Linked DNA regions of Homo sapiens. The protein of the gene in region 2 purifies or fractionates together with the protein of the main gene of each other region. This does not show direct contact. Each region holds a gene or a part of one and is shown on either strand. Other genes may lie near its edges. The genes, in order: LYPLAL1 and ALDH4A1.

The links.
Region 1: the proteins of ALDH4A1 (region 2) and LYPLAL1 fractionate together in Homo sapiens (co-fractionation; 2 studies listed by BioGRID). This does not show direct contact.

Annotation. Positions count from the first base shown.
Region 1 is NC_000001.11:219,204,483-219,212,458, forward strand, and holds part of LYPLAL1 (lysophospholipase-like protein 1), read left to right. Parts: intron 1-6,032; coding exon of another isoform or gene 6,033-6,049; coding exon 6,050-6,165; intron 6,166-7,009; coding exon 7,010-7,246; 3' UTR 7,247-7,976.
Region 2 is NC_000001.11:18,871,151-18,879,126, forward strand, and holds the end of ALDH4A1 (delta-1-pyrroline-5-carboxylate dehydrogenase, mitochondrial isoform a precursor), read right to left. Parts: intron 6,463-7,976; coding exon 6,266-6,462; intron 6,106-6,265; coding exon 6,058-6,105; intron 5,318-6,057; coding exon 5,165-5,317; intron 4,354-5,164; coding exon 4,232-4,353; intron 3,432-4,231; coding exon 3,313-3,431; intron 1,808-3,312; coding exon 1,695-1,807; 3' UTR 280-1,694; downstream 1-279. UniProt on the Homo sapiens protein: Irreversible conversion of delta-1-pyrroline-5-carboxylate (P5C), derived either from proline or ornithine, to glutamate. This is a necessary step in the pathway interconnecting the urea and tricarboxylic acid cycles.

The DNA.
Region 1 (7,976 bases), about 200 Mb from region 2:
GAGAAAGGTATATCATTTTTCCCTTGTGTATTGTTGTGCTTAGAAAGTACATATGGTAGAGATAGCTTTAAATTAATTGGCATCTATATTGCACTGGATAGTTTTAAAATTGCCATTACATGTCAGTGTTTTCTATTTAGGTAATGTTTTAAGTTCTGAAGTTGTTTTTATATACATTAGATCTCCTGGGTCTTGCAGTAGGTAAAAGTAAAGTAGGATATAATTATTTTCATTTCAGAGGTGAAGAAACTAAAATTCAAAGTGTTCCTGGCTAATACAGAGTTGGGACTAGAACCCGGGTCCCCATAATACCTTCCTTTATTGGCCACTAGGTGGTGATAATTCGTTGTTAAGAGAGAATACTGTTATAATTTAGGCTTAACTTAGATCTAGGATGTATAGAACCTGACAAATGATATGAATAGATTTATCAGAATTTTGATAATATAAGCATATTATCAGAATTTTGAAGCAGAGAGAATCAAGTCTTTCTGGAACTACACTGGAGTAATTTACGTGGATGATCTAAATATCCATCATGACAGGAATGGTTGAGGGAATGATGGCCTATTAATAGAATTGAGTATTATGTAACCATTAAGTACTACATGCACACACACATAAAAAGCACTCAGTAGGCCGAGGCGGGTGGATCATGAGGTCAGGAGATCGAGACCATCCTGGCTAACAAGGTGAAACCCCGTCTCTACTACAAATACAAAAAATTAGCCGGGCGCGGTGGCGGGCGCCTGTAGTCCCAGCTACTCGGGAGGCTGAGGCAGGAGAATGGCGTGAACCCGGGAAGCGGAGCTTGCAGTGAGCCGAGATTGCGCCACTGCAGTCCGCAGTCCGGCCTGGGCGACAGAGCGAGACTCCGTCTCAAAAAAAAAAAAAAACAAAAAAAACAAAAGCACTCAGTAAGTATGTGTTCAATTAAAAATAATTATAAAATTTTGTAATTCTGTAGAAAGACTTTCAAATTAGTATTACATGAAAAAAATAAGATACATTGAACATGTAGAGTTAGTTTAACTGTAAAAATGAAATTTAAGAGAACATGTCAAAATTCTGTACAGTACAAAATATTGTAAAATTTTGTACAAGAAACTTTTGTACAAGAAACATTTTGTACAATGGGTGTATATTAATTTTGCAATAAGATTAAAAATAAAAATAAATGAAGGGATAGTTAGAATTCCCAAGATGAAGTCTAGCATCAAAATTTCCAGCCTGCCTTTTTCTGAACTTGTACACGTTTTCTCTATAGCCCAGCTGGGAGCTAAAACTTCAGAATGATAGCATTCTTCTACTTTCTTTGAACATATATGTATTTTAATTAAACATTTTATGTTTCTTCAACAACTAGTAGGACTTTAAAGGCTCTGGACTGTTGTTCTAACAGTTTTCCATAGAGGAAAATAAATATTTTGTTTATCCCACAAGTTTTGTATGAGAGGAGATATCCAAATAAATGTAATAGTCATAATTTCTGTATTCCCAAATCTGAAGAATAATTATAATAGTATACCAGTTAAATGGAAGAGGTGTTGAAATTTAGAATGGTAATGGACTTTATTGCATGTTTAAAGTTCTTTTCAGTTGATAGCACACTTTAAGTGGATTTTTTTAAGGATTTTACTTTCAGATTGATTATCTTAATGTTCCTAATATAGTCTTTTTATAGATTGTTTCTGTTTTATTTTATATAAAGAGTTCATAAAGCCAGGTTTATTATTTTTTAACATGTTTTATTCAGCTTGTTAATCTTAAGTGTATGTTGAAATGTTAACTCTTGACATTTTAAATACTTTGCCAGCAACCGTAAATACCCGTTATAACCATTACCTACAATGGATTTACTATTTTCGTATTTACTTATTGAACAGTAGATTTTATATCATTTTTTAGACTCTTAGGTGGAAAATTGAATTCAAATAACTAGTTCTTTGTGTTAAATTTTCTTCTGTTAGGAAAAAATACACAAAGTCCCTTTTCACAGTAGTGTCCTATGCTAAAGGTCATTGTATTGTCAAAGACGGCTAGTGAGGAGTTGCAGATTACCTCACAAAATCATAAATGGGAAAGGGACTTAGATTAAATCTTAAAATAATAATATTTCAATGAGTATATTTTTCTTCATTGTAACTTAAGAGAATTAAACATGAAGTTAAATGTCTGCAGGATGCATTTATGTGTATTCATAATGACATTTTATGTGCGGGTAAATGTTTTCTTTCTCTCTTTTTTTTTTTTTAAGTTGTTACCATCAAAAGTCTCTGAAACTACATAAAGTGATTACATTCCCTGGTCAACAAAAATGAAGTGTTTGTCACTTCATATGTAAAATTTTCTTGATAGTTATGCTTTTAAAATCTCTTTTTAATGTAAGTTTTTGCCTACTAATCTTTTATTTACATTTTATCTTTTAATGATCTTTATCTTAGCCTCAAAATTATCTATGAAATACTAATTTTATTTTTGCTTCATTTATAAATTTTGAAGCTTTTTTCAATCATTCGTACAGCTTAGATGGTCTAGAACTATGGTAGCCACTAGCTACATGTTGCTCTTTAGTTAAATAAAATATAGAATTGGTTCCTTGGTCACACTAACATATTTCAAATATTAATTAGTTACATTTGGCAGACACATAATTCAGGCTCTTGAATTTCTCAGAAAAAAATAATAAATTTGCTCCTGCAGCCTTGTTATCTATCGCGTGTGGATTTTCTTTAAATGGTGACCATATTTTAACTTTTTGTTTTTACCCATTTTACTTAATTTTGAATTATTTGCCACACAGCTGTGATTCTCAGACATCTGATTTATGGCATAAGAGCTTTTAAAAATTAGACATATGCAGTGAGATTTTGTTAGTGGGTCTGGGATTGGGTCTAAAATCTTTATTTTTAAGAGGTCAGATTAGGAATGATGGGCTTGGAGCACACTAATCATTCATTCCTAGATTTTGTAGGTTTTTTTAAGCTTTACTTTTATATCAAATTAAATCACCAAAAACCTACATTTTCTGATGATAAATTTGTCTCCTTGCAGAGATATTGTTACTGAGTTACAGTTACATTGTTCATTTGTTTAATAAGTATAAGCACTTTCTGTGTGCCAGGCACTGTTGTAAGCATAGAGGGATACATTGATGAATAAAACACAAAAATCCCAGCTCCCATCATTAAATTCTAGTGAAAGTTAAGTCTTTATGTCCCAGAATTTTATGAGAAGAATCAGCAACAGAAGTGGCAGTATGTAGAATGTCTGATTTTGAATTTTATGTTTAATAAAGATCCATTTAATAAATTCTATTAAGGAATTCAATGCTAAGAAAAATTTCTAGTATGACTTGTTATGATTCCTTCTGTTAAAGAATATTGCCTTGCTACAGAGAAACTGTTAAATGCCCAGTTGCACACGTAATTACTGCCCCCACCCTAACATCATGGTCTGTAAGTCTCTTTTTTTATTCTCTGTGTCTCACTCTTTGCTCAAATCCCATCTCTTCCTCTCTCACATTCTCTCCTATTTTAGAGATGTAGTTTTATTATTAACAGTGTGTTTGATTTTAAGCAACCTGAAATTCCTTTGTAAGTAAATGGGCTGTAAAGAACAGAGGGGAAATTGGAAGAGATGAAGGAAGTGAGTGTTTGGTAAGCTCTATTCTGTGAACTTTTAGGAAAGCTAGAATTGTGTTCTGAGAGATAGGGATTCTTAAACTGAAAGTAGATTTCTGTATTTACAGTAACTGTACATTTTAAAAGTTCTCGCAATTTTAGTTTTTATAACTGATTAAGTATTTGTATTTAAAAGGTTGGTGGAAAATCTAGAGATTAGTCCATCTATCTTGTTTTACTATAAATGAAATCCAGCATTTTAAATAATTTACACAAAGACATTCAGCTTGGGAGTATCACAGGCAGGACTAGAACTAGTTTCCTTAATGTTGTCTCTTTGATAAGCTTAAGAGATATTTGTAAATTTTTTACTACTTTCATTAGAAACCCATACGGTTTCTAAAAATTCAGTTAAATTTTTATTGAGTTACTGCTATGTGCAAAGCACTATACTTACCACTGAGCGTGTAAAGTTGAAACTGACTCATTAGTATGCGTGCACCACAGAGACACTTTGTTCAGCTAATCATAAGCACTCAATGAAAATATGATTATTGAAGAAAAACTGTTTCTTACCCTTAAGGGTTTCAAAATCTCAATAATTTATATTCAATAAATTAAATCGATAAGAATTTTATTTCAAAATGTCTTCGCTTTACAACCCTCATGATGTTATTAAAGAGAAAACTTCATAAGCAGAGAGAAATCTGTAACTAGAATTGTGGCAAAAAACAATAAAGTTGAGATTTTTTTCTGTGTACTTACAATAAATGTTTACCAGAAATACTAATTTGTGTATTTACGTAAGCTGTTCATATCTAAATGGGACATGTCAAAGATTTATTAATGCACAAATTCATGGATAATGTAGCCCAGTGGCTTTTAACCTTTTGGAGAATCTAATGTACATTTGCAAATTTTACATACAGTGTTAAGATGCTTATGCTTTTTTCTCCCCCACCAAGCTCATTTATGAACTTCTAATTAGATGTATCTACATCTGGAGTTATTGGGGGTATTTTGAAAGAGCCTTTCAGGTGGCTCTTGTCCATGGTGGGCTACTGCTACGATAAGAACTTATTATTTCTTGCTGGTATGTTGAAAATCACAGATAACTTTTATTCATTATTTACATAGTGTGCCTTTTTTAAAAAATCTAAACTTTGCCAGACTGGTAATCTTCTCTCGGGTATTTGTGTTCTGAGTCCAAAATAATATTACCTGCCTATTCCAGATAAAGTAGTCCTATTTTAATAAATATCAAGGGATAGTAGAAAGTATATTAAACTCTATTGCAAAAGATCCGAATTCCAAAATTACTATTAATAGTTTTATATTTAAAATAATATGTACCTAATCTTGGGCCTCAGTTCCCTCCATGTATAAAAGATTATTGTAGTAAATTCAAATTTATGGTCTCTTAAGAGCTCAGCTTTACACTTTGTTAAGTGAAATAAAGCAGCAGACTTGAAATTAGGAGATTTGAATTCTACTTCAAAGTATATTTTTGTATTTCTATGAGTGTGTGGCTACATGATTTACATTCTGTATTTTCTCATGGAATATAATGAGATGTCATTTAGCTTTCTCTCAAGCTTAGGAATGTCACACTGAGTCACTGACTTGTCGTCAGGCCTGGAATCACCATTCTCTCTGCTGCCGTCACCTCATAACAGCTATCTCCATATTCTGTGTTGGATGTGTTTCCTTCTCAAAGTTCCCCTGAACAGGAGGGTCTGTGTATTTTAATCTGCATATATCCAGTGACTGGCATAGAATTGGTACATTAAAGAGACAATAACAGTTTGACTAATTTTTTTTTCAAACTTTGGTTTTAAAAACTACATATAGGCATACATGTTTCATTTTTATTATATCACCATAAATTAGTTTCCAAAATAATATTGTAATCCAAAAATGTGTTAACTAGCTCCTCAAATTTTTTTTATCATTCTTAATTCAGAATTCACTAAGCATCTATTATATAGCAAACACCAGATACATAACTCCTTATGGAGCTCACAGCTTAGCAAGTAAGACAAAAAGGTGCAAATTATTAATTGCGTTGCAGTGTGAGGGTTTCTGTACGTGTAAACAAAATATAAGTAAATATTGAGAATTTAAGTAATGCTTGTAATATGACTCATTTTGAATTACGATAGATATTTTACTTGGTGAACATGATATATTTGTTTAATCCTGGCTCCTTGTAGAGCACAGCTCTCTTTACCAGTGGTGACATAGAGGGAACAGGGTTATTTATGTTATCGCAGGCCTTTGTCTGTGAAACTTAGAGTAGACGAAATTTCTTTTTAGCATTCTCTTTAAAGGTCTCCAGATATTTTAAAAATATGGAAAATTGTTATATATCATATCCTAAATTATTATTTTATGTATTCTACTTTTAAGTATGTTTTTGTTTTTAGGAGGATTCTCTATGGGAGGATGCATGGCAATACATTTAGCATATAGAAATCATCAAGATGTGGCAGGAGTATTTGCTCTTTCTAGTTTTCTGAATAAAGCATCTGCTGTTTACCAGGTAAGTTCCAGATTTAAAAAAAAATGAAAAAAATATGAAATATATACATGTTAAAACTAAAGCAAAATCGGTAATAAAGCTGTAAAACACACACACAGTTGATGCACAGTTGATATGGATTGACCATTCCTGGAATTCATGGCCAAATGAGTCGTAGTGATTAAATTCCAGCTGATCATTAATGTTTTGGAAATCCCCTGTACAAGAAATATTGTTAAGCAAAATGTCAAGGAGGAAAGGATAATCATGTGTGTGGTTGTGGGGGAGCATATATGTAAATTTTATACATATTAAAACTGCATGATGGTTATAGCTGGGTTTGCTTATTGCATCATGAACATAAAACAAAAATCAATTACATAGCACATACTTATTATGCAGCAATATCCTCATCTATGAATATGATGCAGCTTCAATTATAATGTTACAGCTTCAGTACCAGAAGTGGAAATGTTAAAGCAGATACAGAATAGAGAACTAAAATGTAATTGTCCCCTTGATTGTGCCTTAGCTGTGTACTCCTCCCTCCTTCCACATTGTGTGAAGAGGTCTGTCTTCCCAAGTCACTTAGTTTCTTTAGGAAATGCTTTGGCCATTTTTAAGACGTCCTCTATAGAATAAATGTAAGTGACACACAGTTACAAATTGAGTGATGCCAGGAACCAGCTAAGTCCCCAGGCCTGGCCCACCAATGTATACCTCAGACAGCACTCCCTCTGCCTTTTTTTTCCCATTAGTTATTGAAGCCTTGGTAAAATTGGAATTTTCCTGTTCTCTCTGATTTCTAAGAATGATCTTAAATGGAATTTCTTAAACTTTTCTGTCTTTGTATCTTCTTCTCTAGGCTCTTCAGAAGAGTAATGGTGTACTTCCTGAATTATTTCAGTGTCATGGTACTGCAGATGAGTTAGTTCTTCATTCTTGGGCAGAAGAGACAAACTCAATGTTAAAATCTCTAGGAGTGACCACGAAGTTTCATAGTTTTCCAAATGTTTACCATGAGCTAAGCAAAACTGAGTTAGACATATTGAAGTTATGGATTCTTACAAAGCTGCCAGGAGAAATGGAAAAACAAAAATGAATGAATCAAGAGTGATTTGTTAATGTAAGTGTAATGTCTTTGTGAAAAGTGATTTTTACTGCCAAATTATAATGATAATTAAAATATTAAGAAATAACACTTTCCTGACTTTTTTATTATTAAAATGCTTATCACTGTAGACAGTAGCTAATCTTATTAATGAAAAACAATAGACAAACATCTGTGCATAATTTTTCAGACACAATTCTGTAAATATTTGGAAACCTTTTAAGTATTTAAACTTTTAAATTTTTGAAATAAAGTATTCTAAACTAATATAAATAAGGACAATGAAAAAACATGAAAGGACTTAGCATAATGTTATTTTATCTTTTCTACAACTTTGTTTAAATTACCTTTCCAAAGATATTTGTGTTTATGTAATTTTCCACGGAATAACATTAATACTCTAGGTTTATAAACCGGTTTCACATTATTTCATTTGATCATCACAAGAGCTTTGTGAAGTAAGCCGAGAAGTTGTTACTGGTATTTAATAATAGCAATAGAGGAGTTAAAGACTTTCCCACAGCTTGCAGGTCAAGACAAGAAATTCAGGTCTCCTAATTCTCAGTGGAGCTCTATTTCTGTTAACCCAAATTGCTGCTCTGTTTTAGGTCTCAATTTCATCTGTAAAATGATACTAATAGTACTTATCCCATTGGATTTTTGTTGAGATTTAAATAAATAGCCAAAAGCCAATACATAATAAACACTCAATAAAGATTAA
Region 2 (7,976 bases):
AGGGGGCGGTTACCCCATCTTATGGATGAAGAGATGGAAGGTCAGAGAGGTTGCATAACTTTGTGGCAATCATCTGGCTGGCGGGGGGGCAGTGAGCCAGGATGTGAACCCAGCCCCACCGCCTCCAACAGACAATTTCAAACATCAGCACCTACTGTTCCTTCTGTCACACTGAGAGCACTGTGCCCATGACCAGGTGACACATTGGCAATGACACCAGACTTAAAAGATGTTGGCTGCCCCCACCATCCCCTCCAGAAAGACCATCCACCACTGTGATTAAGTAACAGGCATTTTATTGGGTGGCATCTGAGCAAATCCCATTGCCACCTCACAGTGTAGAACCAGTAGAACTAAGAATACTCCAGCCTGTGCCCCCACCCAGCCACCTGCCCCGGCCCCTCATGGGAAATGACACATATCCTGGAAGGACACAGAACCCACACCCAGCCCAGCTGGCACCAGCACCCACCCCCATCCATGGGCCAGTGGCACTTGGGGAATGGCCACACCAGCTCCGGGTGGGGTCCCATGCAGGCATCCTGGAGGAAGACCCAACACTTTCACAGTCCCCTAAGAACCATCCTTGAAAGTCATGCTTTACAGATCTCTGACCACTCAGAATCCAAGCAGGAGGCATCTGTGGGAGGAATCGTGGTCACAGATTGGCTGCGTCAAAAAAAGAATGGGCCAGTGAGGGACTGGTCCACACAGAGCCACTCCCAGGCAGAGGAGGATTCTACAGGCAACGTCCTCGGCCCATGCTGACGAACCCAAGGCCAGGCCTCTGGGGGCTGGGAGAAGGGAGGGCCAATGTCTGCCTTGGCCTGTGTCACCATGGCACAGTGGTGGCTGAGCTCCTGCAGGGAAATCCCAGACCCTGAGACTGGCTCTAGGAGTGGAGGTCTCTACAGGTAGGGCCTGAGGATCAAAGGGAAGGCTGACATAGGACGAAGGCCCATCCAAGGTTTTCCAGAATCACGGCCTAAACCGGCAGGACCATCCCATCCCACGCCTTGGCAGGTGGCCTCCAGCGGCCCCCCAACCCCGCCATGTGGTGCAGACCGGGAATCACACAGGCCTCGGCCAAACACAGGCACCTGGAGTAAGGCATGCCAGCATCTAAGGTGTGTGGCTGGGGACAGGGGCCTACTGGCCCAGGTGGGTCTGGGCAAAGATACAGTGAGGAAGGTAGACAGCCCAGACCAGAGAGGGCAAGGCCAGCTGGTGCCCCCTGTGCCCCACAGGTCAGTCTGAGTTACACTTTACCCTGGACACCTGGAGGGGCAGGGATCAAGGCCAGGAGCCTCTGTGAGTGGTGAGGTTTGCCAAGGGGCCCAGAATGGCCTCCTTTTCCCCAAAGGATCCCAAGAGCTGCTCCATCTCCTTTCCCCAGGTCCCTGAGCCACTGGGCCCAGTGGAGGGCAGAGGGAGAACCTGCCAGGCACCAGGGTCATACCTCCCACATGGCCGATGGGATAAGGGGTAGTGGCCATGTTCCTCCCCAGCACGATCTCAAACCAGAGCCTGAGGCATGGGAGAGGCCAGAATACAGTGGTAAGAAGGGAGTCAAGCCCGGATTATAGAAAGGCAGCTGTGCATGAAGAAGGGGTGGAGGGGCTGGAGTGGGGTCTGTGCAGTGAGGTCGGCCACCTGGACGGACAGACAGCTGGACGGTGGAGCCCGAGAGGGGCTCACTGCATGTACGCGTAGCTCCAGTCCCCCAGGGGCTTATGTGTCTCCTTGATGACCTGCGGCGACGTCCAGCGCAGGATGTAGTGTGGGCCCCCTGGCTTGTCATTGGTTCCTGCGGAAAAGACACTTCTGTTTTTCTCTGAAAAGATGCAACAGCCTGGGCAGAAGGGGAAGGGAGGAGATGATGGAATCAACGGACCAGCAGTGTAGCGGCCAGCAGCGAGCCTGCTGCCAAGCTTGGGGCATGCAGAAGAGCCAGAGGGATGGACAGGAGACCCTGCCTCCAGTCTCCAGTCTGTGGGGAGCCTCCATTGTTCTCTCCAGTCGCACCCAGCCTTGCATCCTTGCTGGGATGCGAGGATGTCTAAGAGGCAGGGTGTGGCGTGGAGAGAACACTAGACTGAGAGGCAGGGACTTGGCATGGTCCTGGGGTGCCATAAGAGGTACATATCTAGCCTTCACCCCTGGTTCCTAGCCAGAATTCCTAAAGCTCTTGGAATTTCCAGAGTGATGGGGGTGAAAGGAGTGTCTTCCGTTATTCATAACAAGCCCCTTCTAATCACACATGAGTTTATGCTAATGAGGGCTCTTGCAGGATGGCACTGATTGGCAAAGGAACCAACCCTGTGATTAGAGGCTTGGAACCTTCAGCCCCAGGGAGGGCAGAGGGGCTGGAGGTTGAGTCGACCCCAATGGCCAATGATTGAATCAATCGTGCCTGTGTAATGCAGCCTCCATAAAAACCTAAAAGGACAGGGTCGGGAGAGCTTCCAGATTGGTGAACACGTCCACATGCCAAGGGGGTGGCACAGCCCGAACTCCAGGGGGACGGCGGTGCCCCTGCCGGGGACCCTTCCAGTCTTTGCCCTATGTGTCTGCGCATCTGGCTGTTCATCTGTATCCTTTAAAATACCCTCTGCAATACATGGGTAATAGTAAGCACGCTTCCCCTCGGTTCCGTGAGCTGTTCTAACAACGTATCAAAACTCAAGAGGGCATCATGGGAGCTTCTAATGCGTCGCAAAGTCAGACAAGGTGTGGGTAACCTGGGGTCCCAGTACTTGTGATTGGCATCTGAAGTTGGGGGGTCAGTCTTACGGGACTGAGTTCTTAACCTGTGGGGTCTGCACTAACCCCAGGCAGTGAGCATCAAGTTAAACTGTAGGACACCCAGCCAGCATCCATCAAGAGCTGGAGAACTGGTCGGTGTGGGAAACCCCAGCACGCCTGGGTTCAGCCCTGGCTCTGCCACTCAGGAGCAGTCACCTTTGGCAAGCCATTGCTCCTCCTGAGCCTCAGTTCCCCATTGTGAAGTAGAGGTTGTTGGACTTAAGGGACACTGGCTATGGTGCAGAAAGTGCGGCTGCTGGAGCCAAAATTACAATCCCACCAGGGTCATGTGGCCTTGAGCCTCAGTTTCCTCCTCTGTAAAATGGGAAGAATAGTCCCTTTGCTCACGAGTTTGCTGAAAGGACCCTGAGCTAGTGCACTTGCTTGGCCCACAATAAGTGCTCAGTAAATGGTATCCTTCCTATTACTCTGAAGCCCCTCGAGACGTAACATCTAGGGTCTCCCACCAGGAACTCAGCTCCCCTGTGGGAAGGGGGACCCACTCACCAGAGGCTCGGGCCCCCCCAAAGGGCTGCTGGCCCACTATCGAGCCAGTGGACTTGTCGTTGATGTAGAAGTTGCCGGCAGCATTCCTCAGCACCTTTGTGGCCTCCTGCACGACGTCCCTACAAAGCAGAGCAGTGGTGACAGAGCAACCAGCTCATCTCCCCTCCAGCCCCAGCTCCAGCCTCAACACCCCTGCTCCAGCCCACACTGGCTTTCCAGGTTCAACAGGAGGCCGAGTCAGGGATGAGGGATGCTGCCAGCTGTTGGCTGTGGGCCTTCGGTCAGGTTACCCAGTCTCTGAGCCCAGCTTCCTCCTCTGGGGAGGGGCTTGGCACGCCTCGTTACAGGGCTACTGCGAAGTTGAAGGGAGTGGCCTGTCCTGGTCCAATGTTCCTGTCCCTCAGGAGCAGCGGAAACTCCAGCTCCCAGGCCCACACCCTTCCTCCCTCTCCAAGCTCACCTCCACTTTCTCATAGAGGCAGACATGGGGGCAACCAGTGCCACGGAGGAAAGAAGAGGCGAAGCCTCAAGTTTAGCCTCATGTGACCCAGGTTCGAATCCTGCCTCTGCAGCCCCTGGCCTGCCCTGCTTTGTAGCATGGGACAATCACCTCACTCAGTGGGGCAACACCAGATCCCGCAGAGCCAGTCGAAGACACCAATTCCTAGCCCTGCCCCTAGAGGTTCAGATCCACTGGTCCCCAGTGGCACCCTGGCACCGGCACCACCAGTACCGGCAACAAAGAGCCTGCTGCTGTGGGCCCATGTGGCGAGCCCTGGCTGCCTGTCTGGGCTGAGGGGAGGGGACAGAGAGAAGGTAGGGGCAGCATTATTACTGGGAACCACGTCCAGGAGGTGGGGATGGGGACACGGACAGGACACCCGGAGCACAGCACCAGGGCTGCGGCCTGGCCACTCACTTATCCTGGGAGAACACTGCCCCCGTGAGGCCATAGCTGGTGGTGCTGTCAACCAGCTGCAGCGTCTCCTTGTACTTGTCATCCGGGTAGACGTACACAGACAGTACAGGCCCGAAGATCTCCTAGGAGAGAGGCCCCGGCGTCAGACCCTCCACGGGACCAGGGACCAGGGCCCTGAGCCCTCCCAGTGCCCCTGCTCTGGCTCACCCTCTCCCCAGTCCCTGGGCCTCAGTTTACACTTCAGTGTCTGCAAGAAGGGTCAGGTGTCGCCTCCTCCTGGGTTCCCTCCAGGACAGCAACGTGCCCAGCTCCCTGTCCTGTCCATCCCACCACAAGCCGGCAAAAGATGCAAACATTTTCTGGCTCTCCCTGCCAAACCCACACCCGGAGAACTAAGGGTCCAGGTCCCAGAGGCTTCCAGCAGCAGCTGGCATGAGAGTTGCCCAGAGATACCATTCCCTCCAGAAGGGTTCATGGTTCCCTCTGCCACCAAGGGGCTGGGGGGAAGATCTTCTCAGGCACACTCCAGCCCTGCACTACCAACTTGGGCAAGTGCCTTGACCTCAGTTTCTCATCTGTAAAATGGGAACAGTAACACCCACGTCATCTCAGCCAAGTGCTCAGCCACAGCTGGCCCCACAGTAAAAGTCTATCAGTGTCAGCCATTATGATGGCTGCAGTGGACGTGGTTGCTGAGGGCACTGGAAATGCTCAGACCCCAGCCAGGGTCAAGGACACAGCCCCGGATTTGGAGTTAGGCAGCCTGAGCTCAAAACCTGGCTCTACTCTCTCCCGGTCGGAGGCATTCCCTTTTAGGGTCTCCCTTTAGGGCCTCATCTGTGAAATGGGAGAATGTCTCCAGGAGAACTGTGTGTGTGCTGTGCTCCGGTGGGATTGTCCTCCTCTGGACCCCAGGCTGCCCACCCCAGTCACCTCCTTCATGATGGGCTCCTGAGGGTCCTTGCTCTCCACGATGCAGGGCTCCACAAAGTAGCCCACGGAGTCATCACACTTGCCCCCGGCCAGGATGGTGAGGCTGGGTGAGGAGCGTGCGTGCTCCAGCCACTTCTTGATACGGGCAAAGGACTGGGGTGGGCAGGGAGGAGGGAGGTCTAAGAGGCTGGGAAGGCATCCCTGCGGCAGCCCCCACAACACACTCACCCCGAAACACCTGCACCTGAAGGGCCCAACTCCTGAAACAGGGGCAGGGGTAGGGGACGCCAAGGGCAAAAGCCAGGGTCTGGCTGAGCCACAGCAGAGACAAGGACAGACATGAACACTGTGTGTGTGTGTGTGTGTACACACACAAGTGTACGTGTGTTAGTACTACAGGTGCACTCGCATATAAACACAGACACACATCAATCAATGCATATATAGGCATATGCATGGTCACATGTCTAAGCATGTAGGGATCTGCATGCCTTCTCCATGTACATGCGTGTGGGTGGACTTATCGACATATGCGTGTGTGTGCTTATGTGCAAATGGATATGTACGTGTTTATATGGAAAGACCTACATGTGGAGCCACACGGAGCCCTATATGAACACATTCACAAACACACGTGTACATGCACTCATGCAAATGCTATTAGGAGCTCGCTGAGCCTGGTTCCAGGGTGGCCGCAAGATGAGCTCTTGTCTGGCTACGGCTGATTCTGCCCTTTCTGAAGCTGGAGGTGCGTGTGTGGCTGCTGAGCTGCCTTGATCAAAGCAGTGGGGCTGGGTCATGCCCTGGGTCAGGGTACCCTGTATCTCTTCCTCCCTCTTCCACCCACTCCAGGGCTTGCCCCCACCCAGGAACGCCCACTTCCCACCCCGTACCTTGGCATCAATCACTGCAGAGAAGAAGGTCCCAAAATCCTCTGCAGGCTGGAGGCAAGGGAGGCGCCAGAAGAGACGAGTCACTGCAGGCCGAGACCAAGGGAGACCCCTCCCCGCACACCCCAGCCCCGGCTGCAGAGGAGCCTCCCAGGGACCCAATCCCATCAGCCCCCCGCTGGGCCGCGGCGGGGGTGACGGTGCCACTCACGTCGCCCACTTTGATCCGACTGTGCTCCTCCAGCAGCCGCCCTTTGATCTGCGGCCACAGCGAGTGCGGCACGTAGAGACGCGAGCACGCGGAACACTTCTGGCCACCGTACTCGAAGGCTGAGCGGAGGGTCCCGCTCACCACGCTCTCCACGTCGGCCGAGCGGTGCACGAAGTGGAAGTTCTTTCCGCCGCACTCTACAGGGGTCGGGGGTGGGGAAATGACCAGAGGAGCTGGCTCCCCCGGTTGCCCAGGGGCCCAAAACACCACCTACGCCATCCATGGCCCGGGACCAACACGAGCACGGAGCAGCCCAGAGCGGGCGGAGGCTCAGAGTGAGCGCTGGCCAACATCCCAGAGACCCACGGGCCAGGCCCATTCTCCCACTCCACAGATGAGGAAACTGAGGCCCAGGGAGGGGTGAAGGGCATCAGAGGTGATCAGGTCCAACAGCCCCATTACACTGATGGGAAAACTGAAACTACCCAACACAACAGCAGAGGACAGATGAGAACCCAAGGCCCCCGAGAGCCAGCCATTCCCAGAAGTGGGCACAGCTTTTTGTGAGGTTCTCCTGAGCCCTCGTCCACGAGGGACATTGGAGCCTACCCTATGTCGGCTGCCAGGGTTGGGCCCCTCCTCCCCACGCGTGCTGGAAACCGCTCCCCCATTTCCCCAGTGGGAGGGAGCTTCAGACAGGTCACTTCACTCTCCCGGCCTCAGTTTCCTCCCTCCGTGGGAAGCAGCAGCTAACAGCAGCTGAAAGCACTTAACAGCTGCCCAACTCTGGACGAAGTACGCTGTGCTTTGTCTGACCAAAGCCTCACAACAACCTCCCATTACTATCCCCAATTTCAAGCCAAGAAAACTGAGGCACAGAGAGATGAAGTCACCTGCTCCAGGTTGGAAAGTGGTAACCAGCGGCCTCTCTCCCTCAGGGAGGCAGGGAAGGAGGCTCTGAGAGCAGAAAGCCACACAGCTGACCCTGAGGAGCGCTCACCTTCCCTGACACCCCCATCCGAACTCCCACCAGTCCAGGAACAGGGTCCAGACTCCCCAGTGGGCCCCAATTCACGCCACAGAGAAACATGCTGGACCACCGGTCCCAGCTCTGCTGGTCACGTGCTGGCTGCAACTCTCCCTCCCTCTAGGCCTCAGCACATTCCCAAAATGTGCTCCACAAAACACTTGGTCCATGGGGGTCTTTGCAGAAACGGGGTTCCATGGCCCAATGCGTGTGGGAAACACTACATGGCAGACCTTGTCCTTGAAGATGTGCCATGCGTATTAGAGCATTCAAGGCTCTGAGAAGTTCTGCACGGGAGGAGTCCATTTTGCTTTAACACCACACATGCCAAATTTCCTTGACCATGAAACTGTTTCTTTGTGGGAAAACTTTAATATGCCAACAAGGTCCAGCCCTGCCTACGTCTCAGCCCGTCTTCTCCTACCAGCCCTCCTCCCTCCCTACTCATGGGCCTTGCTTTGTTTCTTCAAATACAAGTTCATTCCCACTTCTGGTCTCTGCATTTGCACTTGCCTCCGCTTACAGCTGCAATGCCCGACACGGCAGCCACCAGCCACGACTGGCTACTAAGATTTAACTTAATTAAAATGAAAGAAAACTAGATAATGCAGTTCCTCAGTCGCACAGGCCACCCTTCAAGGGCTCCATGGCCATGTGTGGCTGGTGGCTGCATATTGGAGAGTG